Linked DNA regions of Homo sapiens. The protein of the gene in region 3 interacts with the protein of the main gene of each other region in a biochemical or structural test. Each region holds a gene or a part of one and is shown on either strand. Other genes may lie near its edges.

What was found.
Region 1: the proteins of LIMK2 (region 3) and ADGRG1 interact in a test that uses a peptide from one of them, tested with the Homo sapiens proteins (one large-scale study listed by IntAct).
Region 2: the proteins of LIMK2 (region 3) and F11R interact in a test that uses a peptide from one of them, tested with the Homo sapiens proteins (one large-scale study listed by IntAct).
Region 4: the proteins of LIMK2 (region 3) and PBK interact in a test that uses a peptide from one of them, tested with the Homo sapiens proteins (one large-scale study listed by IntAct).
Region 5: the proteins of LIMK2 (region 3) and RSBN1 interact in a test that uses a peptide from one of them, tested with the Homo sapiens proteins (one large-scale study listed by IntAct).
Region 6: the proteins of LIMK2 (region 3) and SLC15A5 interact in a test that uses a peptide from one of them, tested with the Homo sapiens proteins (one large-scale study listed by IntAct).
Region 7: the proteins of LIMK2 (region 3) and U2AF2 interact in a test that uses a peptide from one of them, tested with the Homo sapiens proteins (one large-scale study listed by IntAct).

What each region holds. Positions count from the first base shown.
Region 1 is NC_000016.10:57,662,849-57,666,067, forward strand, and holds the end of ADGRG1 (adhesion G-protein coupled receptor G1 isoform b precursor), read left to right. Parts: intron 1-603; coding exon 604-734; 3' UTR 735-2,719; downstream 2,720-3,219. UniProt on the Homo sapiens protein: Adhesion G-protein coupled receptor (aGPCR) for steroid hormone 17alpha-hydroxypregnenolone (17-OH), which is involved in cell adhesion and cell-cell interactions.
Region 2 is NC_000001.11:161,014,653-161,018,152, reverse strand, and holds part of F11R (junctional adhesion molecule A isoform 1 precursor), read left to right. Parts: intron 1-3,500. UniProt on the Homo sapiens protein: Seems to play a role in epithelial tight junction formation. Appears early in primordial forms of cell junctions and recruits PARD3.
Region 3 is NC_000022.11:31,264,298-31,267,797, forward strand, and holds part of LIMK2 (LIM domain kinase 2), read left to right. Parts: intron 1-1,648; coding exon 1,649-1,835; intron 1,836-2,686; coding exon 2,687-2,773; intron 2,774-3,478; coding exon 3,479-3,500. UniProt on the Homo sapiens protein: Serine/threonine-protein kinase that plays an essential role in the regulation of actin filament dynamics. Acts downstream of several Rho family GTPase signal transduction pathways.
Region 4 is NC_000008.11:27,831,318-27,834,817, reverse strand, and holds part of PBK (lymphokine-activated killer T-cell-originated protein kinase), read left to right. Parts: intron 1-1,684; 5' UTR 1,685-1,704; coding exon 1,705-1,762; intron 1,763-3,500. UniProt on the Homo sapiens protein: Phosphorylates MAP kinase p38. Seems to be active only in mitosis. May also play a role in the activation of lymphoid cells.
Region 5 is NC_000001.11:113,805,977-113,809,476, reverse strand, and holds part of RSBN1 (lysine-specific demethylase 9), read left to right. Parts: intron 1-3,500. UniProt on the Homo sapiens protein: Histone demethylase that specifically demethylates dimethylated 'Lys-20' of histone H4 (H4K20me2), thereby modulating chromosome architecture.
Region 6 is NC_000012.12:16,271,186-16,274,685, forward strand, and holds part of SLC15A5 (solute carrier family 15 member 5), read right to left. Parts: exon of another isoform or gene 3,340-3,500; intron 2,252-3,339; exon of another isoform or gene 2,157-2,251; intron 1,599-2,156; coding exon 1,376-1,598; exon of another isoform or gene 1,362-1,375; intron 298-1,361; exon of another isoform or gene 1-297. UniProt on the Homo sapiens protein: Proton oligopeptide cotransporter.
Region 7 is NC_000019.10:55,658,035-55,661,534, forward strand, and holds part of U2AF2 (splicing factor U2AF 65 kDa subunit), read left to right. Parts: intron 1-827; exon of another isoform or gene 828-947; intron 948-1,175; coding exon 1,176-1,311; intron 1,312-2,142; coding exon 2,143-2,187; intron 2,188-2,481; coding exon 2,482-2,585; intron 2,586-3,003; coding exon 3,004-3,155; intron 3,156-3,500. UniProt on the Homo sapiens protein: Plays a role in pre-mRNA splicing and 3'-end processing. By recruiting PRPF19 and the PRP19C/Prp19 complex/NTC/Nineteen complex to the RNA polymerase II C-terminal domain (CTD), and thereby pre-mRNA, may couple transcription to splicing.

The DNA.
Region 1 (3,219 bases), on a different chromosome or scaffold from region 3:
GTTGTATGGCCAGGCCCAGGGGCTCTCATGGGGTTCAAGGCCAGCCTCCCATACAGGGTCACCCTAGAATGGGAGCTGGGAGTTGGTGGTGGGGAGATGTTACCACATTTCGGTTATTTAACATTCAAGCCTTCATTCCTGCCTGTGAGATGAGGGGACTCAGGATTGTAAGTGAGGCCCATACATTCACACAGACATTTACTAAGCTGTGGATACATCATAGTGCTATTAATTTGAGGGGTGCAAAATCTCACAGTGCTTAAGTGGGTGGACTTCAGAGCCTGTTCACCACAGTTTGAGCCCTGGCTCAGCCACGTCCCTTTACCTGAGCCTCCTGGGCCTCAGTTTCCTTGTTTACAAAAGAGAATAGTAATGAATAGGATGGGCCTAGGAAGTTTGTGACAGTGAGAGGCCACACGGGGACGCAGCACAGTGCCCGGCTCATAGGAGGTGCTCGCTGGGTCTCATGGGTGCCCGACAGCACGTGCTTGGCAAACACTATGGAGAGGTGGGGCAGACCCGAGTCACAATGGCTGGGGAGGGAGGAGGAGGGATGGGGTGGGGCTCCCCCACCTGCTGACCCCGTGCCCTCACTGCCCGCAGGCTTCCTCATCTTCATCTGGTACTGGTCCATGCGGCTGCAGGCCCGGGGTGGCCCCTCCCCTCTGAAGAGCAACTCAGACAGCGCCAGGCTCCCCATCAGCTCGGGCAGCACCTCGTCCAGCCGCATCTAGGCCTCCAGCCCACCTGCCCATGTGATGAAGCAGAGATTCGGCCTCGTCGCACACTGCCTGTGGCCCCCGAGCCCGGCCCAGCCCCAGGCCAGTCAGCCGCAGACTTTGGAAAGCCCAACGACCATGGAGAGATGGGCCGTTGCCATGGTGGACGGACTCCCGGGCTGGGCTTTTGAATTGGCCTTGGGGACTACTCGGCTCTCACTCAGCTCCCACGGGACTCAGAAGTGCGCCGCCATGCTGCCTAGGGTACTGTCCCCACATCTGTCCCAACCCAGCTGGAGGCCTGGTCTCTCCTTACAACCCCTGGGCCCAGCCCTCATTGCTGGGGGCCAGGCCTTGGATCTTGAGGGTCTGGCACATCCTTAATCCTGTGCCCCTGCCTGGGACAGAAATGTGGCTCCAGTTGCTCTGTCTCTCGTGGTCACCCTGAGGGCACTCTGCATCCTCTGTCATTTTAACCTCAGGTGGCACCCAGGGCGAATGGGGCCCAGGGCAGACCTTCAGGGCCAGAGCCCTGGCGGAGGAGAGGCCCTTTGCCAGGAGCACAGCAGCAGCTCGCCTACCTCTGAGCCCAGGCCCCCTCCCTCCCTCAGCCCCCCAGTCCTCCCTCCATCTTCCCTGGGGTTCTCCTCCTCTCCCAGGGCCTCCTTGCTCCTTCGTTCACAGCTGGGGGTCCCCGATTCCAATGCTGTTTTTTGGGGAGTGGTTTCCAGGAGCTGCCTGGTGTCTGCTGTAAATGTTTGTCTACTGCACAAGCCTCGGCCTGCCCCTGAGCCAGGCTCGGTACCGATGCGTGGGCTGGGCTAGGTCCCTCTGTCCATCTGGGCCTTTGTATGAGCTGCATTGCCCTTGCTCACCCTGACCAAGCACACGCCTCAGAGGGGCCCTCAGCCTCTCCTGAAGCCCTCTTGTGGCAAGAACTGTGGACCATGCCAGTCCCGTCTGGTTTCCATCCCACCACTCCAAGGACTGAGACTGACCTCCTCTGGTGACACTGGCCTAGGGCCTGACACTCTCCTAAGAGGTTCTCTCCAAGCCCCCAAATAGCTCCAGGCGCCCTCGGCCGCCCATCATGGTTAATTCTGTCCAACAAACACACACGGGTAGATTGCTGGCCTGTTGTAGGTGGTAGGGACACAGATGACCGACCTGGTCACTCCTCCTGCCAACATTCAGTCTGGTATGTGAGGCGTGCGTGAAGCAAGAACTCCTGGAGCTACAGGGACAGGGAGCCATCATTCCTGCCTGGGAATCCTGGAAGACTTCCTGCAGGAGTCAGCGTTCAATCTTGACCTTGAAGATGGGAAGGATGTTCTTTTTACGTACCAATTCTTTTGTCTTTTGATATTAAAAAGAAGTACATGTTCATTGTAGAGAATTTGGAAACTGTAGAAGAGAATCAAGAAGAAAAATAAAAATCAGCTGTTGTAATCACCTAGCAAACTGGCGTAAGCATTTTGGGTCATTTCCTTCTGAGCTTTTTCCTGTGCTTCTATTGAAAGAGTCACTGATACTAATACAAATACCTTGGGGCCAATCAGGAAACATGAAAGAGAGAAGAGGGCTGTGTGTGAAGAAAAAAAAAAAATCGACTGCTGGAAACCTCATCAACCAGGGCACAGGGGAAGATAAATGGCAACTTGGTGTCTGTGCTGGGGAGGCAATGGGGAGTGGTGGGGCCTGTGGCGAACTGGAGACTCCCAACCCCATGCTGAGAGCGTGGCTGCTCATCAGCTCCAGCTGGTCACTACCTTGCAGGGATGAGGGCCCATGTAGCCAGACCACCTGCCTTTTATGAGAAATGGGAAATCCAGACTGTGGTTTGACATCCCCTGATTTTAAAATTTTGGCGAATCCAAAACATTTTCTGGCCAAAGAGATTACAGTCAAAAGCTGCCTGGTCCTGGGATTTATGCAACCAGTTTACTGATCACTCTGCAGCAGGTGGGCTGCAAGAATTAAATCACTGGACTTCTCTCCCATCCCTGCCTTTAACCTTGTTCCACCAAATCAATCTCTCCTCCCGCTCCTAAGGCCCAGGTGAGGCAGATCACGCAGGTTCCCATCTTCCCTGTGATGAGGGCAGTCACAACGGATCATTGCTACTGTGTTCAGGTAAGAGGTCCCAGTGCAGCCAAAGTCCTCCCCAAGGCCCACAGTCCACTCTCTCCCTTCTGCAGGCTCCTCCCTCCTCCCCTGGCCACTCTAGGGGGATGCCCAGCAGGGGAAGAGGCTCAGAGTCTTGGATTGGACAAGGTGGGTGTGAGGCAGCTGGGTCTAGACTGGCAGTGCCCTCTGAGGGGCGTGAATGTGGGATCTTGGGACCTGCAGGGACCAAGAACCCCTGTGCCCTGCTGCTCTCCCAGCCCTCCCTCCACCCCCTCCACTCCCTCCACTGACCTCTGTCCCCACCTTTCTGCAGGTGGGGGGCTCCTCTTATGCCCCCAGCTCCAAAGGACAGAGGCCAAACCTTCCCAAGCCT
Region 2 (3,500 bases), on a different chromosome or scaffold from region 3:
ATGACCCAGAGTACTAGCCTCCCTTTCCCTAGGGAACCTGTCCCTTAGAAAAGGTTCAGCTGTCTACCAGGTAGGGAGAGACACAGTAGAGGTGAGTGTGGATAGGTCAACTTACAGTGTAACCACAGGGGAGAGAGGGAAACCTGGGTTGGAATGCTGGCATTTGCTCCCCTGCCCTTCCTTGAGTGTGGTATCATCACTGAAGAGTTCCGCGTGGGCAGGGCAGAACTGCTGCCCTGCTTCTGGGTCATTCTCTGAGTCCCAGTGTTTACTATTGATGTTTCTGACTCAAGCCCTTCTAGCTTTGCCCTTTCAGGGGCAGGCATACCTCAAAACCGTAGACTGGTGTGAAGGTGTGGGTTGCCCCTCCACACCTGTGGGTGTTTCTCGTAAGGTGGAACGAGACTTGGAAAAGAAAAAGACACAGAGACAAACTATAGAGAAAGAAATAAGGAGACCCGGGGAACCAGCGTTCAGCACATGGAGGATCCCGCCAGCCTCTGAGTTCCCTTAGTATTTATTGATCATTCGTGGGTGTTTCTCTGAGAGGGGGATGTGTCAGGGTCACAAGACAATTGTGGGGAGAGGGTCAGTAGACAAACACGTGAACAAAGGTCTTTGCATCATAGACAAGGTAAAGAATCAAGTGCTGTGCTTTTAGATATGCATACACATAAACATCTCAATGCTTTACAAAGCAATATTGCTGCCCGCATGTCCCACCTCCAGCCTTAAGGCGGTTTTTCCCTATCTCAGTAGATGGAACGTACAATGTCTTGGTTTTATACCGAGACATTCCATTGCCCAGGGACGGGCAGGAGACAGATGCCTTTCTCTTGTCTCAACTGCAAGAGGCATGCCTTCCTCTTATACTAATCCTCCTCAGCACAGACCCTTTACAGGTGTTGGGCTGGGGGACAGTCAGGTCTTTCCCTTCCCACGAGGCCATATTTCAGACTATCACATGGGGAGAAACCTTGGACAATACCTGGCTTTCCTAGGCAGAGGTCCCTGCGGCCTTCCGCAGTGTTTTTGTCCCTGGGTACTTGAGATTAGGGAGTGGTGATGACTCTTAAGGAGCATGCTGCCTTCAAGCATTTGTTTAACAAAGCACATCTTGCACAACCCTTAATCCATTTAACCCTGAGTTTGACACAGCACATGTTTCAGAGAGCAAGGGGTTGGGGGTAAGGCCATAGATTAACAGCATCCCAAGGCAGAAGAATTTTTCTTAGTACAGAACAAAATGGAGTCTCCTATGTCTACTTCTTTCTACACAGACACAGTAACAATCTGATCTCTCTTGCTTTTCCCCACACTGGTGAGTCACTCCTCCTTTCCTCTCCCTCTACTCCCAGGAGTGAATTGTTCCCTCCAAACTAGAAACTGGTGACTGGCACTTCCTAGTTCTACCTGGAACTAGGAAACGAGTGGCAGTGGAATTTCAGTGTCCTTTAGTCTTTGCCTTCTGGCTCCAGATCACTTTTTTTTTTTTTGAGACGGAGTCTCATTCTGTTACCCAGGCTGGAATGCAGTAGCATGATCTTGGCTCACTGCAACCTCCACCTCCCGGCTTCAAGCGATTCTCCTGCCTTAGCCTCCCCAGCAGCTGGGACTACAGGCACGCGCCACCACGCCCGGCTAATTTTTTGTATTATTTATTTATTTATTTGTTTTTGAGACAGAGTCTCTCTCTGTCGCCAGGCTGGAGTACAGTGGCACGATCTCGGCTCACTGCAAACTCCACCTCCCGGGTTCATGCCATTCTCCTGCCTCAGCCTCCTGAGTAGCTGGGACTACAGGCGCCCGCCACCATGCCTGGCTAATTTTTTCTATTTTTAGTTGAGACGAGGTTTCACTGTGTTAGCCAGGATGGTCTTGATCTCCTGACCTCATGATCTGCCCGCCACGGCCTCCAAAAGTGCTGGGATTACAGGCGTGAGCCACCGCGCCCGGCCCCTAATTTTTTGTATTTTTAGTAGAGACGGGTTTTCACCATGTTGGCCAGGCTGGTCTCGAACTCCTGACTTCAAGTAATCCTCTTGCCTAGGCTTTCCAAAGTGCTGGGATTACAGGCGTGAACCCCTGCACCTGGCCACTCCAGACCACTTTTACCTCACCATGTTGCTCTTCAGTTCCTTTGTGATCATGTCTTGTGGAGTCTCCAGCCCAGTTCCGATTCAAGATAGAGCTACTGTGATTTTTTTTAAAAAAATTTAATTAGAATAGGTTAATTGACATGGTTTTATAATTAAAATGATATCAAAGGGGTGGGGTATCTCATTCCCATGTTGCTCCTGTTCACCCCAAACCCCAATAGTTTCTAATGTCTCTTCAGTGTTTCATTTTACAGATACAAGTATATATAAATAATACTTGTTTTTTCTCCCCTTTCTGACACAAAAAGAGGCATACTACATATATTCTACATCTTGCTTATATATATATATCATGGAGTTTTGTTGTTGTTGTTGTTGTTTTTGAAACAGGGTCTCACTCTGTTGCCCAGGCTGGAGTACAATGGCATGATCATAGCTCACTGCAGCCTTTTTTTTTTTTTTTGAGACAAAGTCTTGCTGTGTTGCCCAGGGAGGAGTCCAGTGGCGTGATCTTGTCTCACTGCAGACTCTGCCTCCCAGGTTCAAGTGATTCTCCTGCCTCAGCCTCCCGAGTAGCTGGGACACAAGCGTGCACCACCATTCTTGGCTAATTTTTGTGTGTGTGTATATATATATATATATATATTTTTTTTTTTGAGATGGAGTCTGGCTCTGTCACCCAGGCTGGAGTGCACTGGAGCAATCTCGGCTCACTGCAAGCTCCGCCTCGCGGGTTCACGCCATTCTCCTGCCTCAGCCTCCCGAGTAGCTGGGACTACAGGGGCCCGCCACCACTCCGGCTGATTTTTTGTATTTTTTTTAGTAGAGACGGGGTTTCACCGTGTTAGCCAGGATGGTCTCGATCTGCTGACCTCGTGATCTGCCTGCCTCGGCCTCCCAAAATGCTGGGATTACAGGCATGAGCCACTGTGCCCAGCCTTTTGTACATATTTTTTTAATTTAATTTTTTTTTTTTGAGATGGAGTCTTGCTCTGTTACCCAGGCTGGAGTGCAGTGGCGTGATCTCGGCTCACTGCAAGCTCTGCCTCCCGGGTTCACGCCATTCTCCTGCCTCAGCCTCCCAAGTAGCTGGGACTACAGGCACCCGCCACCATTCCCTGCTAATTTTTTTTTTTTTTTGTATTTTTAGTAGAGATGGGATTTCACCATGTTAGCCAGGATGGTCTTGATCTCCTGGCCTTGTGATCTGCCCCCATTGGCCTCCCAAAGTGCTGGGATTACAGGTGTGAGCTGCCCGGCTAATTTTTGTATTTTTAGTAGAGATAGGGTTTCACCATGTTGGCCAAGCTGGTCTTGAATTCCTGACTTCAAGTGATCCGCCTGCCTTGGCCTCCCAAAGTGCTGGGATTACAGGCATGAGCCACCGTGCCTGGCCTCACT
Region 3 (3,500 bases):
GAGGCAGAGCAAAAGGACAAGGGTAAGTAAACCTGTAGGTCGGGACAAGCCAAGAGCCATCCAGCGTCAGTCCTCTCTGGGTAGCCCAAGTAAAGCAGGAGCATACCCCAGAGAGAAAGTTCGCAGGGCTGTTCACCTGCAGTGCTGTGGACTTCAACCTTCTTGTTCCTTCTTCAGTAAGTGAAAATAACAGTCATTGACCATGACTATTATCGACCGCTTTTGAAAATGTAAACATAGTGACTTTATTGCTGTAAAAATCATACGTGTTTATCATCTTAAAATTCAGGAAACATGGACAGGTACAAAGATGTGCAAAATATCATCCAAAATCCCATTTGCTGGCCAGGCACGGTGGCTCACGCCTGTAATCCCAGCACATTGGGAGGCCGAGGCGGGCAAATCACTTGAGGTCAGGAGTTTGAGACCAGCCTGGCCAACATGGTGAAACCCTATCTCTACTAAAAATACAATAATTAGGCTGGGCGCAGTGGCTCACGCCTATAATCCCAGCACTTTGGGAGGCCGAGGTGGGCGAATCACAAGGTCAGGAGTTTGAGACTAGCCTGGCCAATATGGTGAAACCCCATCTCTACTAAAAATACAAAAATTAGGGCCGGGTGTGGTGGCTCACGCCTGTAATCCCAGCACTTAGGGAGGCCGAGACAGATGGATCGCGAGATCAGGAGTTCGAGACCAACCTAGCCAACATGGTGAAACCCCATCTCTACTAAAAAAATACAAAAATTATTCGGTTGTGGTGGCACACGCCTGTAATCCCAGCTACTTGGGAGGCTGAGGCAGGAGAATCTCTTGAACCTGGGAGGCAGAGGTTGCAGTGAGTGGAGATCCCGCCGTTGCACTCCAGCCTGGGCGACAGAGTGAGACTCCATCAAAAAAAAAAAAAAAAAAAAAAAAATTAGCCGGGCGTGGTGGCGTGCACCTATACTCCCAGCTACTTGGGAGGCTGAGGCAGGAGAATCGCTTGAACCTGGAAGGCGGAGGTCGCAGTGAGCCGAGATCGTGCCATTGCACTTCAGCCTGGGCGACAGAGCGAGACTCTGTCTCAAAAATAATAATAATAACAATAACTAGCCGGGCCTGGTGGCACATGCCTGTAGTCCCAGTTACTCAGGAGGCGGAGGCATGAGACTCAGGTGAACTAGGGAGACAGAGGTTGCAGTGAGCCAAGATCACACCACTGCACTCCAGCCTGGTTGACAGAGCGAGACTCTGTCTCAAAAAAAAAAAATCCCATTTGCTCATTTTTTGGATACTAGTATAACTATCACTCTAAACCAGTTAGTACTTAAATCAAGCAGATATGGGAGATGGTGAATTACCATCTACAGTGTTGTCATATATGTCACATACTGAGCATTATCAGCTAGTAGAATCTAGTTAATTGTTCTATGTGTGATGTATGCAGAGTTCCCATTTTGAATGTGTTTTTACTATGCTTAAATAAATGACTGATGTCAGCAACCCCAAAATGATACATCTGATGTAAGAGCCCCTGTTCCCCAATAATAACATCTAAACTATAGACATTGGAATGAACAGGTGCCCCTAAGTTTCCTCCCTCCAGGGTTTCTTGGCCGGTCTCTGAGGACTACACATCCCTACTCCCGTCTTTCCTCATCTTCAGGCGCAGTAACAGTATCTCCAAGTCCCCTGGCCCCAGCTCCCCAAAGGAGCCCCTGCTGTTCAGCCGTGACATCAGCCGCTCAGAATCCCTTCGTTGTTCCAGCAGCTATTCACAGCAGATCTTCCGGCCCTGTGACCTAATCCATGGGGAGGTCCTGGGGAAGGGCTTCTTTGGGCAGGCTATCAAGGTGAGCGCAGGCAACAATTGCTTTGCTCTTCTGCCCCCAGTCCCTCTGTCACTGTCTTTCGGGGATTTCTCATCACTTGGCCCCACCCCACACCATGCAGGATGCCAGGCCTCCTTCCTGGCTTTGGGTGTTGGTGTGAGAGGTATCCTTCACCCCCACCCAGGCCACCTAAGGTCAATGTTGCTGTTACAGTGAGCTTGTGGACCTGGAGATCCAGGTTGGGTTGAGCTGTGCCTGTGGCCCTCCTGCCTCCAGTCAGTGGGTGTTTGTTAGGTGCCTGCAGACCTCAGTACCGGGCATGCTACAAGGAGCACACAGGGGAATGGCTCCTGCCTCCCTGGTGAACAGTCTCAGGGACTAACCTCTCTCTTTCTCTCCTCCTCCTCCTCTTCTGCTGAGAACTGGGAGGGGGGGTCAGGTAAGACGTGTGTCTCAGCTTGGGGGCAGCAGGGCTGGAGAGCTCACCCCCGATCCACCCAGCTCCCTGGTGCATGTCTTTGGCACTGACCTTCCTGCCCCCAGACTTCTGTTCACTCAGGAGACTCACTTCTATGCCAAATGACCAGAGCCCCTGCTTGGCTTGGCAGCATCCCCTCCTGCCTTCTTCCCCACTTCCCTTTTCTGGGTTCTTGCCTGTCCTCTGTGCATGCCCAGCTCTCCAGGAAAGAGGGTTTGCTTCCGTGTGAGTCCCATGTTGCTCCACGCTGCATCTTCCACACATGAACTCTGTCATTCTGACCCGGCTCAGTGTGCCCTCCAAGGGATGGGATGGCCAGCTGCATAGATTTTCTCAAACAGTTCTCCAGAACTTCCTCTGGTCTCAGCACCATTAACAGTCACCCTCCCTGTAGGTGACACACAAAGCCACGGGCAAAGTGATGGTCATGAAAGAGTTAATTCGATGTGATGAGGAGACCCAGAAAACTTTTCTGACTGAGGTAAGAAGATGGAGGGGGCCCGGGAGGTTGGTGTCACCATTGGAAGAGAGAAGACCTTACAAATAATGGCTTCAAGAGAAAATACAGTTTGGAATTACTGTCTTAAAGACTAAGCAGAAAAGAGCCCTAGAGGAATATCCCACTCCCTCTAAATTACAGCGTAATTATTTGTTCAATGAACACTTACTAAAAGCAACACAAACAGGGTACAAGGGATGCAGTAACAAAAGATACAGGGTTCAGAAGAGCTCTCAGGTTATGAGGATGATGGACATGAAAACACTCCAATTTAGTACAACTCAATGTTATAATCCTCACCTGAACGCCCTGCTAAGGGAGCCTGGAGGGGAGCTCCCTGAGCACTCACACTCCTTGGGCATTTACAGTTTTCACTACCCCTCCCAAGTTACTTCATGGAGTAACTTAAGTTGGGGACACCTGTGGTCTGGGTATTGCCCTCCAAGCCACTTGGCCACTCCCACCCCAGTTCTCCCAATGCAGTTCCAAGGGTAAGGCCTATGAAGCCATCTCCATCTATATGGTGGTGGTCTTCCCTCATCCTGATCTTAGTGCCCTGTCATATCACAAGATAGGAGGTAGGAGATACAGGTGGTAACACTTGTCAAGCTGATTCCTTGGAGGGAAGAGGTAAGGAAGACAGTGAGAAGTTAACCACCAGCTTTCCTTGGCTTCCCCCACCCCCAGGTGAAAGTGATGCGCAGCCTGG
Region 4 (3,500 bases), on a different chromosome or scaffold from region 3:
TTCAAGCGATTCTTCTGCCTCAGCCTCCTGAGTAGCTGGAATGACAGGTACACGCCACCACACCTGGCTAATTTTTTTGTATTTTTAGTAGAGACGAGGTTTCGCCATGTTGGCCAGGCTGGTCTTGAACTCCTGATGTCAACTGATCCGCCTGCCTTGGCCTCCCAAAGTGCTGAGATTACAGGCGTGAGCCACCATACCCGGCCTCATTTTATTTTCATAGACAATTTTTATAACCATTTATTGAGATAATTAATGTATCATAAAAATCCACCTTTTGAAAGTGTAAAATTCAATAGTTTCTAGTATACTCAGAGATGAATATATTAAACCATTATCTGGTTTTAGAACCTTTTCTTCACCCCAGAAAGAAATCCCATACCCACTGGCAGTCATTCTGCATTCTTTGTCTCCCAGTCCTTAGTAACTATTCAGCTATTTTTGTCTCCATGATTTGCCTATTCTGGACATTTCCTAAAAATGGGATCATTGGACGGGCACGGTGGCTTATGCCTGTAATCCCAGCACTTTGGGAGGCCCAGGCGGGCATTATCACAAGGTCGGGAGTTCGTGACCAGCCTGGCCAATATGGTGAAACACCGTCTCTACCAAAAATATAAAAATTAGCCAGGTGTGGTGGTGGGCGCTGGTAGTCCCAGCTACTCAGGAGGCTAAGGCAGGAGAATTGCTTGAACCTGGGAGGCAGAGGTTGCAGTGAGTCGAGATCATGCCACTGCACTCCAGCCTGGGCGACAGAGTGAGACTCCATCTAAAAAAAAAAAAAAAAAAGGATCATCATATATGTAGCCTTTATGTGTCTGGCTTCTTTCATTTAGTATAATGTTTTCAAGGTTCATTCTTGTATATATCAGCACTTTATTCCTTTTTATGACTGAATAATATTCCATTGTATAGATATGCCACATTTTGTTTATCCATTCATCATCTGATGCAGAGTTCTGTTGTTTCTGCCTTTTGGCTGTTATGAATAATGCTGCTTGAACAGTTTCCTTAAAGGATATAAGAGAGCTGTTAACAACTGCTCCTGGGAAGTATAACAGGGAGACATACTGTTTACTTTTTTGTACTAGGTGATTTTTTTTTTAGCTAAGTGCATATATTACTTTATAATGAAAACAAAAATACCCAATCACTAATATTATGATGGGGGTAAGTAATTGTACTTTTTGGTTTTAGTTTCCTCATTTTAAGTAAAATTGGGCTAAATGTTTGTTGAGGTCCTTTTTAGCTCTCAAATTTTGTTTGTGATAACGTGAACGATAATGTTATAGGCTTTTTTTTTTTTTTGAGACGGAGTTTTGCTCTTGTTGCCCAGGCTGGAGTGCAATGGCACGATCTCGGCTCACCGCAACCTCTGCCTCCCAGGTTCAAGCGATTCTCCTGCCTCAGCCTCCCAAGCAGCTGGGATTACACGCATGCGCCACCACGCCTGGCTGATTTTGTATTTTTAGTAGAGACGGGGTTTCTCCATATTGGTCGGGCTGGTCTCGAACTCCCGACCTCAGGTGATCCACCGACCTCAGGTGATCCACCCACCTCAGCCTCCCAAAGTGCTGGGATTACAGGCATGATCCACTGCGCCTGGCTATTGGCATTTTTCTTCATGAATGAGAGTTGTATTCTTTATATCTGCTGTGTAACTTGCAATTTGTTTTCATCGTAGGACTGAGAGTGGCTTTCACAATGGAAGGGATCAGTAATTTCAAGACACCAAGCAAATTATCAGAAAAAAAGAAATCTGGTAAGATAGCAGATGTAAGATTTTTTTTTTTACTATTGTTGTTTCTCTTAGAAATGTCCTAGTATTATTTAGTTTGATCCTTTATTATCGGTCACTTAGAAACTTTAATGTAACTCCCCTTTATGATGTTAATCTTAACAAATAAGACTTATTTTATAGGCCACGGTTTGATCATCTCTGGACTAATTTTATTGACAATCTAACAGGTTTGGAGGCTCTCCCTGCCCAAGAATCAACTTAGCTTGACCCATTAAGGAACTGCTTTACCTTTCTCCCTCTCATCCATACATTGCTCTTGTGAGGGAAAGATATTTTCCAAGGCAACTCAATGGACAAAGGAAAATCTTTTCAACAAACACCTAGATATCCACGTGCAAAAAATAAGCCTTGACCCTTAACTCCTATTATATAAAAAATAGCTACAATTAAATTTCTAGAAAATAACATGAGAAAATATTCTGTTGTCCATTTCTAGTGACAGATTTTTCATATTGACCTTGTATCCTGCAACCGTCCTAAACTCACTTATTCTATTAGCTTTTTAATAGATTGCTTGGGATGTTGTATATGGTTGGTCATTTGTGGATGAAGAAAGACAGTTTTACTTTGTTCCCCAGTCTGTATGGCTTTGTTTCTTTTACTTTTTTTAATTGCACTGGCTCCAGTATGTTTTTGAATAGAAATGTTAGTGGATATACTTGCCTTGTTCCCAATGTATTATGTTAGATGTAGGTTTTTCACAAATACCCTTTATTAGTTTGAGGAATTTTTCTTCTATTTCTAGTTATTATCGTGAGTGGGTATTGAACTTTGTAGAGAGCTTTTTCTGAATCTATTAAATTTTCTTTTAAAATCTCTCAATGTGGTAAATTATGTTAATTTTCAAGTGTTAAACTGAACTTCCTTGTGTAAAGCCAGTTTGGTCATGATATATTTTATATATTGCTTGATTTGCTGATATTGTCTATATTCATGAGGGATATTGGACTGCAGTTGTCTTTTTGGGATATCTGTCTAGTTTTAATATTAGGTTATTCTGTATTCATAAAGATGAGAAATGTTTCTCTTTTTTTAATAGAAATATCTTTTTCTTTAACTTTGTGTAGAATTGGTATTATTCCTCCTTAAATTGGTGGAATTCACTAGTAAAGCTATCTGGGCCTGGAGTTTTCTTAGTAGGAAGAGTTTAACTGTGATTTCACAGTTAATAGATATAGGGCTATTCAAGTGATCTCTTATTTTCTTTGTGAATTTTGTTAGTGTTTTTTAAGGAATTTGTCCATCACTTCTAAATTTTCAAATGTACTGGTGTGAAGTTATTCTTGATACACCCTTATTAACCTTCTAGTGTCCTTTTTCATATCTGGTACTAGTATTGTATATTTTCTTAATTTTTTTCCTTAATCAGTCTGACTTGAGGTTTATGTATGTTGGTGAATGTTGCATGCACTTGAAAAGGGCATTTTTTTCTACTCTTACTGGGTACGGTGTTCTACAAATGTCAATGTTCTACAAATGTCAATGATATTCTGTATACTTTTTATATTAATTATGAGAGAAGAGAGTTGAAGTTTCCAACTACAATGTGGATTTGTCTGCTTCCCCCCACCCCCAATTTCTATCAGTTGTTGCTTCATGTATTTTGAAGCTTTGTTATTAGGTACATACACATTTAGGATGGTTATTTCTTTTCTTTTTCTTGTTTTTTTGAGTTTCCTTTTGTCACCCGTAATGGAGT
Region 5 (3,500 bases), on a different chromosome or scaffold from region 3:
ACATAGTTTGACTGATATCTTTTTTGTCCTCTGAACATCTTTATTGTTACAGTGGTATGCAGGAGGCATGCCTCTGGTATTAATCTGAGTTTAAATCATGGCTCTAACACTTACTGTGTGAGCCTGAACAAATTGCTTTACCCTCTCTCAACTGCACTTTTCCTGTCTATAAAATGGGGTTGTGGTATTTCATTTATAAGGAACTTGTGTGGATTAAATAGGGCATTGTGTGAAAGTACTTACAGCAGTGCCTGGCTCATTGTAGGCACTTACTTAAAACCGGCCTTTATTATTTTATTATGCATGGTCCCTAAAACAACTCTAAGATTAATAAGGAGAGTGGGCAGATTCTTGTTACTTACAAAGCTATGTCCTTCCTTCGCTTATCCTCAGATTTTTGGAAACTATTTTAACTGTTTTTTTTTTTTAGATAATTAATGATTCACAGGAAATTGCAAACATAGTCAAGTCCTTACCTTTTACCAGTTTCCCTCAGTGGCTACATCTTACATAACTATTGTATAATATCAACACCAGGAAATTGACATTGGTACAATGTATATGTAGTTATATGCTATTTTATCATATGTAGATTAGTGTAACCACCACTACAATCAAGATACAGAACTGTTCCACCACCACAAACCCTTTACAGCCTTAGGCACTCCCTCTGTCTCTCTACTGTCCCTGTCCTCTGGCAGCCACTAACCTGTTTTGTCATTTTGAGACTATTATATAAGTTGAATCATACAGTATGTGATCTTTGGAGATTGCCCTTTTTCACTCAGTGTGATGTCCCTGAGATCCATCCCTCTTTTTCATTGCCGAATAGTGTTCCATGGTATGGATGTACCATGGTTCACCTATTGAATCATTCCCGTATAAGAAAGGACATTTTGATTATTTCTAGTTTTTGGCTATTATAGATAGAGCTTCTATGAAAATTGGTGTTCAGGTTTTTGTGTGCATGTAACTTTTCATTTCTTTGGTCGTATGGTAAATACAATTAGCCCTCTGTATCCATGGGTTCCACATCAATGGATTCAGCCAACCTGGGATTGAAAATATTTTCAAAAAAACATTGTCTGTACTGGACTTGTGCAGACTTTTTTTTTCTTGTCACTGTTCCCTAAACAATACAGTATAACAATTATTTATATAGCATGTACATTGTATTAGGTATAAATAATCTGGAGATGATTTAAAATATAGGGGAGGATGTGCATAGGTTATAAGCAATTATTATGCCATTTTATATGAAGGACTTGATCATCTTGGATTTTGTTGCCCTGGGAGGCTCTGGAACCAATCCTCCATGGATACCAAGGATGACTATATATATTTATTTTGTTTGTTTGTTTTTTAAGATACTGCCAAAGTATTTTCTGGAGTGTCGGTACCATTTTACATTCCTGTCAGCGGTGTAAGAGAAATCCATTTTCTCCACATTCTTGCCAGTATCTGGTATTGTCACTATTTTTATTTTAGCAATTTTAATAGACGTGTGGTGATACATCATCATGATCTTAATTTGCATTTCCCAAATGGCTAGTGATAATACACATCTTTTCATATCATCATTTGCTGTCTATATATCCTGGTCAGTAAAATGTCTCTTTATACCTTTTGCCTATTTTCTAATTGAATTTTGTGTGTGTGTGTGTGTGTGTGTGTGTATACATATACATATATATATATATATAATTTTTTTTTTTGAGACAGAATTTCACTCTTGTTGCCCAGGCTGGAGAGCAATGGTGCAATCTCGGCTCACTGCAACCTCTGCCTCCCGGGTTCAAGCGATTCTCCTGCCTCAGCCTCCCGAATCGCTGGGATTACAGGTGCCTGCCACCACACCCAGCTACTTTTTTATATTTTTAGTAGAGACGGGGTTTCACTGTGTTGGCCAGGCTGTTCTCGAACTCCTGACCTCAGGTGATCCACCCGCCTCAGCCTCCCAAAGTGCTGGGATTTCAGGCGTGAGCCACTGCGCCCGGCCCTTGAATTGTATATTTTTTATTACTGGGTTTTGATAATTTTTTGTAGATCACAGGTGCAGCTTCTTTGTATGGTTTGCACATATTTTCTCCCAATCTGTTGCTTGTCTTTCCATCCTTTTTGTTTGTTTGCTTGTTTTTATTTTGGTTGTTTTTTTTTTTTTTTGAGATGGATTCTCACTTTGTCACCCAGGCTGGAGTGTAGTAGCACGATCCTGGCTCACTGCAACCTCCACCTCTTGGGTTCAGGCGATTCTCCTATGTCAGCCTCCCGAGTAGCTGTGATTACAGGCATCTGCCACCATGCCCGGCTAATTTTTGTGTTTTTCAGTAGAGACGGGGTTTCGCCATATTGGTCAGGCTGGTCTTGAACTCCTGACCTCAGGTGATCCGCCCGCCTTGGTCTCCCAAAGTGCTGGGATTACAGGCATGAGCCACCACGCCCAGCCTGTTTGTTTTTGTTTTTTTGGGGAGGGTCTCACTCAGTTACCCAGGCTGCAGCACAGTGATGTGATCATGGCTCACTCTAGCCTCAACCTCTGGGGCTCAAGTGATCCTCCCACCTCAACCTCCTGAGTAGCTGAGACCACACGTGTGCACCACCACACCTGGCTAATGTTTTTTTTTTTTTTTTTTTTTTTGATAGAGGCAGGGTCTCTCTGTGTTGTCCAGGCTGGTCTCAAACTCCTGGGCTTAAGTGATCCTCCCGCCTTGGCCTACCAAAGTGTTGGGATTACAGACAGGAGCCACTGTGCCTGGTCCTTTCTACCTTCTCAGTGGGATACTTCACAGAGCAAAAATTTTAAATTTTGTTGATATCCAATTTACTAAGTTTTTTTTTTTCTTTAATGGATCATGTTTTTGGCATCATATCTAACATACCAAGTCCTAGATCCCAAAGATTTTCTCCTTTGTTTTCTTCTAAAAGTTTTATAATTTTAACTTTTGTATTTTAATCTGTCATCCATTTGAGTTAATTTTGTACAGGTGTGAGGTTTAGGTCGCCATTTTTTTTCTTCTTGCCTAAGGATATCCAGTTGCTCTAGCACCTTTTGTTGAAAAGATTAATCTTCCATTGAATTGCTTTTGCACTTTTTTCAAAAATCAGTACAACCTGTAATGTAACAATGATTTTTTTTTTTTTTTTGAGACAGAGTCTCGCTCTGTGCCAGGCTGGAGTGCAGTGGTGTGATCTCAGCTCAGTGCAACCTCCACCTCCTGGGTTCATGGGAATCTTATGCCTCAGCCTCCTGAGTAGCTGGGATTACAGGCGCCCACCACCACACCCAGCTAATTTTGTATTTTTAGTAGAGATGGGGTTTCACCATGTTGGCCAGACTGGTCTCAAACTCCTGACCTCAGGTGATGTGCCTCCCACAAGTGCTGGGATTACAGGCATGAGCCACTGTGCCTGGCCTAACAATGGTTTTTACAATTTAAAATAGTTGGAACGACCTTGTAGCGCATGGAAATCATACGAAATTTAAACTGTGTCCAGAAATA
Region 6 (3,500 bases), on a different chromosome or scaffold from region 3:
AAATATTTCATTCATATAATGTCTCCTTTGTAATCAACACTGAGAAATGTCACTTTGATTAAACACAACTCTGAATGACTAAGACCACAGTACAATAAATTCTCCAGAGCTATCTTTCAGAACAACTGATTGCTCTCCAGTCTTAATCCTCCAGAGTCTTATTTAATCAAAATGATGTTGCTAATTAAGGATTAAAACCTCCGAATAGAATAAAAAAGAAGGATTTTTCTTTCTCCTTTGGGCAGGTCAAGGAGGCAGAATTTGCTGCAAGGAAGTAAAGAGTCCCTTCTACCTTTGGTAAGACTGCATTGTTCTCTGACATTAGGACTTAATCCAAAATAGGGCTGAGTGCTTTGTAATATTAATATAATTGGAGAAAGAAAAAAGGGGAGCAAGAGAAAGAAAAAGAAAGAAAGAGAAAAGAGGAACTGCCTCGGATAGCTACATATGCCTATACATACACATATAGACACTATTTACTCTAAAAATGGACAATGTAGCTCACATCTGTTTGACATCCACTGATAGATAACAAAGAATAACAAAGAAGTTTTATACTAAATTCTTAACTACCCTCCCTTAAGATCCATATATTAATTTGTTTTCTTGAATTTGTATTTGGTAATATAAATTGTTTCCTTAAAAAACACAAAAACCGACGAACTCCATAAGAACTCGTTGGGAGAGACAAAGATTCACAGGAAGGCTGTTTGATTTTCATGGAATATAAACTCTTTTAGGTGTTGGGAGCGAACTGGGTGAGAAACAGAGATGCTGGGTGATGCTTTAACAAATTGCAAAATACTTCTTTCATCTTTGCATCTTCTCTCTGCATTGGCCTAGAAATTTATAATCTCTGCCAAATTAGTCTATTACAATACAGACATACTAACAGCTACCATTTTTTGATCACTTACTATGTGCCAAGTTCTTTGCCAGCAATACACATGGTGTTACCTCTAATAAAACCGGAGAAGAGGAGGTATTATCCCCCTTCAGAAATGAATAAACTGAGGTAGAGAATAAATGACTAGGTCAAGGTCAGTCAGCCTGTGTTAAGCAGAGTCCAGACTTCCACCCAGGTCTCTTTGGTTCCAAAGCCACATTCTATTCTGCAGGACAAGGCACTTCAAATCTTTTTACCTGGAGGATAAATGTGTCCGCGTGTGTTGGGAAGGTGCTGGTGAGTTGTACTGGTCTGCATGAGACTTAGAAGCTCCTGTGATTACTGACTGAATCATCATCACAGATTCATCACATCATCACTTAGCCCAATTCATCACAAAGACTGAGCAACTACTACCCAAATGGAATCAGAAAGTAAACAGTGAGAATGGTCATAAGCCTCTTTTCTCTCCTAGCCAGTGCTACTTACCAGTTAAAAAAAGACATCGTTTTTTGTGATCCATACTCCTGAAGGCCAAAAGCACCCAGTGGACAGACGATGGCTCTTACGCCTCCAATGCCAAGGCAAATGGTCAGCAGTGCTACATAAAACAGCCTGTGCTGCTCTGTTTTTGGTATGTTGTTAACTGCATGGTAAGTGCCCAGATAGAAATCTTCCAAGGGAAAAGCCACCACAGATAACAAAGCAGTGCCTGTAGGTGGAGAAAAAAAAAGAGTAAATGTAGCATAGAACAAGTGGATCACCAAATCACATTTTAAACAGGGTTTTTCTCTGACAGTGGCATCATTTTGTGATTGTCTTATCCAAACATTTATGGTAGTCATTGCAATTTCAGGGATAGCCTGATGTTTTCCAATTGTAAAAATTTCCTTCAATATGTGTCTCAACTAATCCGGAGTTTTAGGTTTTTTTTTTTCTCCTCAAGCTTGAACTATGTTTTCTCTCAGAATGTATGAGCAAATCATGTTTATTTTGCCAAAATTAAAATAACTCAGGAAAGCATTGTATAAAAAATGAAGCTGTTAGTATTCCCACCCCCAGAGAAAACCACTGTTAATAAAGGTTATTTGTTCTTAATCAATCGAGTGACAGAAAACACCATGATCTCACACATCTCAGAAGCTTATTACCTAAAAGCTTTTAAGAAGAACATTATCAGAGTTAGAGGAGAACACAGCCTTTTTTTTTTTCTTTCCTACTTCTGTTTCTCCTTGTAATGTCTTTCTTATTTCTCTTATTTCTCACACAGCTGGATGGAGCCTTCTTTGCCACAAACAGAGTTGAGAAAGCTGGGGACAGAGGAGTGTGAGTGGAAGGAGAGGGGACCTAAAGTGACAAAAGAAGGTCGAGTATCCTTCTCTCTTCCACCTTGCAGGGACCACACTTGATGACTTTCCTTGTCTAATAAAAATAACTATACAATTCCATGCTTTTGCTAAGCTCTTTATATTTTGCCAAGCATGCTCATGGACTATATTGTTTCATCTTGGAAAAACTTTGTGATGTGAGTGGATAGATTTTCTTATTCAATTTTTTTTTAAAGAAATAAGTTCAGTGAGATTAAGTGGCTTGCCCAATGTTATAAAGTAACCCAGTTGTAATCTCCCTCTTCTTGGACCTCCTACCATCAAGTAGTCAAATAAATTTTTTTTTTTTTTTGGAAATAGCATTCCCCCCCATCAGATTACAAAAGTAATACATTCTTACTTCAGAAAATTTGAAAAATAGAGGAAAGCACTCAGAATAATACAAAAGGCCCATAATCTCATTACTCAGAGATCATCTTTACATATATAATTTTACTTTTATAAAATAAAATATTTTAAAAATATTTATATTTTACTTAAAAATATTTTACTTATATATAAATATATTTTATAAATGTATTTTACTTAAATAAATTGAGGTTACACTGTTGAGTTTTTAATGTAACCAAATAATATGAACAATTTTTAAAATACCTTTATACTTTTCCAACATGATTTCTAGTGATGATGTGATATTCTAATCATAATGTGTTTTAAAATACCTTTTCAGTTATTTTTAAATGAATACTGTAAAATACCCTGACACATAAGTTTTGTGCACATCTTTATTAGCCTAAGTTCTCAGTCAAAGGCATTCCTATTTTTATTGCTTCTTAATACCACTGGCAAATGTTCTTTAACAATGCAACAAGTTAATCTCCTACCATCATTGTATGAGAAGATCTTCATTCATACTAGTTAGCATCATTAATTTTTTTGTTTTGATGATTCGATTAGTGAAAAATGGCTCCTCCATGTTCGTTTTGCTCTTCATTTTATTAATTTGGCATTAATGTTATTTGGTATAAATTTTTATACAGTTATTTCATGTGATTTGTTTTCTCAATTAGATTATAAATTCCTTACAGATAAAAATTTGGTCTAATGCTTCCATCTCCCCTACAGAGGCTTTCACAATGTAAAGACTATATGCCCTTAATAGCTATTTGGCAACAGATTCATTTACCATGAGGTGAGCCCTTTAAATTATTGAGTTTGAAATGTTCCCTTTTAAGGTTAGCCAGATATGAAACTAACTGCTCTCTTTCTACCACTTAGTCTTCTCT
Region 7 (3,500 bases), on a different chromosome or scaffold from region 3:
GGAATTGTGATGCTTTTCCAGACATTCACATTGCATCGCAAAAACGTGAGACAAAACACTGTGGGTGAGGCTGAAGTTTAACATCCTCCCTCAGTGCCCTTTCCTCCTCTTGTCCCCAGGGATGATCACTCCAGGAGATGCGTGTTAACATATATAAGCACCTTAACGTGTGCATCTGTTTTGTGTGTGTGCTTCATGGCTAGCTGAGAAATCTGGGTGTCTTTGAATTAAGGAAATGGTGTGGCGGTGCTCATGAACCCCCCCGCCCCCCCATGCTCATGGTTTATCCTCCATCTTGAAGGGCCGGTCTCTCTTCAGGGGTTGAAGGGTCTGGTGAGAGCAGAGGTTTCTGTGGTTTTGCCAGTGAGGCTCCGTTCCTAGTGGCTACCTCAGGCAAATAGAGGGTTGAGGGAGCCTGCTGGAGGCTGGCAGAGATACCCGCCCCTACTCACGCCTTTACAGTCTCTTCAGTACTTGGCTTTGAAGGGAGTGAGGCTGAGAGATTCAAGTGGTTTGGGATTCAAGTCTGGATGGGGCAAGCTCCTCCCCTGACCTGCTGAAGGAGAGGAGGGCCTCTTTCCCCTTCAGTCTGCAGATTCTCCGAGGCCCTTCTCTTCCCCTGGGAAGGGTGCTTGCTTCTGCATTATTCACCGGCTTGGGAAGGGATGGGTTGAGTTTCCCTGCTTCCTGGGGATATCAGATCCTGCCTGGCACCTGACCCCTAGTCCTGATGGTGGGGCTGTGGGTGCCAGCTAGTTGCAGAGGTCTTTCCTGAGGGGTCGCTGGGTCCCTTCAGGAAAACATCATTGGGTCTCTTGATTCCCCAGCCTCTAGCCCTGCCCCTCTCAGGGACGACCCTGGGGTCAGGCCCCTCAGCCCTCGAGGGGGACCAGGAGCCAGCCTCCTCTGTCTTCTCTGGCTCCCCAGCTCCTCCTGAGCATCCTCAGGTATCTTACACCCCGGGGGCATTTCCAGGCCCCGTCCCCCTGGTCCCCTCATGGTCCCTGGACTCGCTTGTGGACCCAGGAGGCCTGTTAATTCCCTTCCTCCATTGAATCCCTTCCCTTTGGGGGTGGCCTCCCTGGGGCTTGGGACATAGCCACCAGCGCGCAGGGTGGGCTGGGCCCGCATCCTTACTCCGCTTATCCCGTGCCCCTCCTCTCACCCTTGCCCAGAGCGGGACAAGGAGAACCGGCATCGGAAGCGCAGCCACAGCCGCTCTCGGAGCCGGGACCGCAAACGCCGGAGCCGGAGCCGCGACCGGCGCAACCGGGACCAGCGGAGCGCCTCCCGGGACAGGCGACGACGCAGGTACTAGGGCTCAGGGATCCCCTGGGCCAGCCTGGGAGTCGGGGGGTCGGTGTTGGCCGGCCTGTGGGTGGCCTGTGTGTGTCTGTGTCTGGGTCCGGGCCCTGTGTGGCTCGTTCGTTCTTTGTGTGGATCTGGGGGAGGGATCTACTGCTTGGTCTGTCTTGGATTCCGATTTTTTCCCCCGTTTCTGGGGTTTCTTTCATTTTCTGTCTTGGTGGTTGCTGGTGGGTTGCTGGGGGCAATAGGCTCTTTATCTGGAGCCTGGGAATTGATTCTGTGTTTTCCTTCACAAGGGGTTGTTCTCTGTCTCTGACTCTGAGGGCCTGTTCCTTCTTTTCGACTCTCTGTGGCTCTCTGTGGGACTCTCTTCGAGGGGGTTGGTCTCTGCCTCCAGTTTCTTTCTTCCCTGCCTCCCAGGAGAAGGGAGCTCTTGGGACCGAGGCAGTATCCACAGCCTGGGCTGACTTTTTGGCCCAGGGGTGTCGGTTTCCACCGCCTCTTCCCTTCTAGGCTCCCCTTTCTGTTCTCTGCCTCCTTAGGTGAGGAAGGGCAGGATAGGCGGAAGTCCTCCTGCCTCCTCCCGGCTCAGTTTCTCCAGCTAGAGACTGGTCCTTCCTGGCCCCTGGCCCCTTTCTCCTTTCCTCACTTCCTCTTTCCTGGGGGTGGGAGTGTTTGGGGGGAAATGGCAGGGCCGAGGGTGGCCTGCTTGCTGCTTGTTGACCTCGGCCCTGCTCCCACCCTGGGGCTCAGTGCCCTTGGGGGGGTGTGGCATGTGGGGAAGACGAGGGTCCCCAGTCACCCCTCCCCATACCTTTCCCTCCCACCCCCCAGCAAACCTTTGACCAGAGGCGCTAAAGAGGAGCACGGTGGACTGATGTGAGCTTCTCTTCCTGCCCCTTCCTCCCTGATGTCCACTCCCTTCACCTTCCTCACGCCCGTGCACCCTGTCCCGCCCATTTCCAGCCCTGGCCCAAGCACTGGGAAGAGTCCACTTACCTTGAAACCAGCACCCCTTTCCCAGGCCCTGCCCCAGACCCTCTCCTTCCCTGGAGAGAGTGGAGCTTACATGGTTGCGGGGAGGGTGAAAGGGTGCCTGGGAGGGGGCTCGCAGGCCCACTGTTGGTCAGACTGAGGTTGCCCTGCCCCGCTCTCCCCTCCCACCTCCCCCAGTCGTTCCCCCCGCCACGAGAAGAAGAAGAAGGTCCGTAAATACTGGGACGTGCCACCCCCAGGCTTTGAGCACATCACCCCAATGCAGTACAAGGCCATGCAAGGTAGGCCCCTGGCCAGGCTGCTCCCAGAGCGGGAGGGTACAGGGGTTGGGATTCTCCGTCAGTCATTCCCCTGCGTGTGTGCTTGGAGGGGGTCAAAGACACAGGTAGAGGGTTGCACACCCCTGGGGGTTCTGGTCTCTGCGCTTTTGAAGCCTCCCTAGAGGAGGAAATGACCAGAGACACCCGTGGTTGACAGGGGAATGAGGCCTCCATCTGGACGCCATTAGGAAGTGAGGCTTCTGAGGAGCAGCAGTTACTGGGTGGGGGCCCCGAGGGTGGAAAGAGGGTTCTGGAAGGTGCTAAGACCGAGAGCCTGTAGGAGCTTTCTGCTGAGGAGGGGAACTCCCAGTGTGTGGTGAGGGGTGGTCACTGAGCATTCCCCTGATGGGGTTTTATCCGGCTTTTATTCCCTTTGAAGCTGCGGGTCAGATTCCAGCCACTGCTCTTCTCCCCACCATGACCCCTGACGGTCTGGCTGTGACCCCAACGCCGGTGCCCGTGGTCGGGAGCCAGATGACCAGACAAGCCCGGCGCCTCTACGTGGGCAACATCCCCTTTGGCATCACTGAGGTACTGCCCTCCCCTGCCCCCTACCCTCTCCCTTGTCCCTCTACCCCGTTCCTCCCCTTCCCTCCATTCCCTTTCCCCAACCTGCACGGGTCAGACTCTGCTCCTGCAAGACCCCCCGGCCCCCTCCCAGACGGACCGATGGAGTTGAGCCAGCCAGGGGCCGGGCTGGGGGTGGCCCTCCCTCCCTCCTCTTCCCCTCTCCCGTCTCCCCTCCCCCCAACCTCCTCCAGCAACCCAGGGATCAAGCACACACATAATGTACCCACGTGTTGTACCTACGTGTCGGAGAGAGACAGAGAGGGAGACTTGGACACACACACACACACACACACACACACACACACA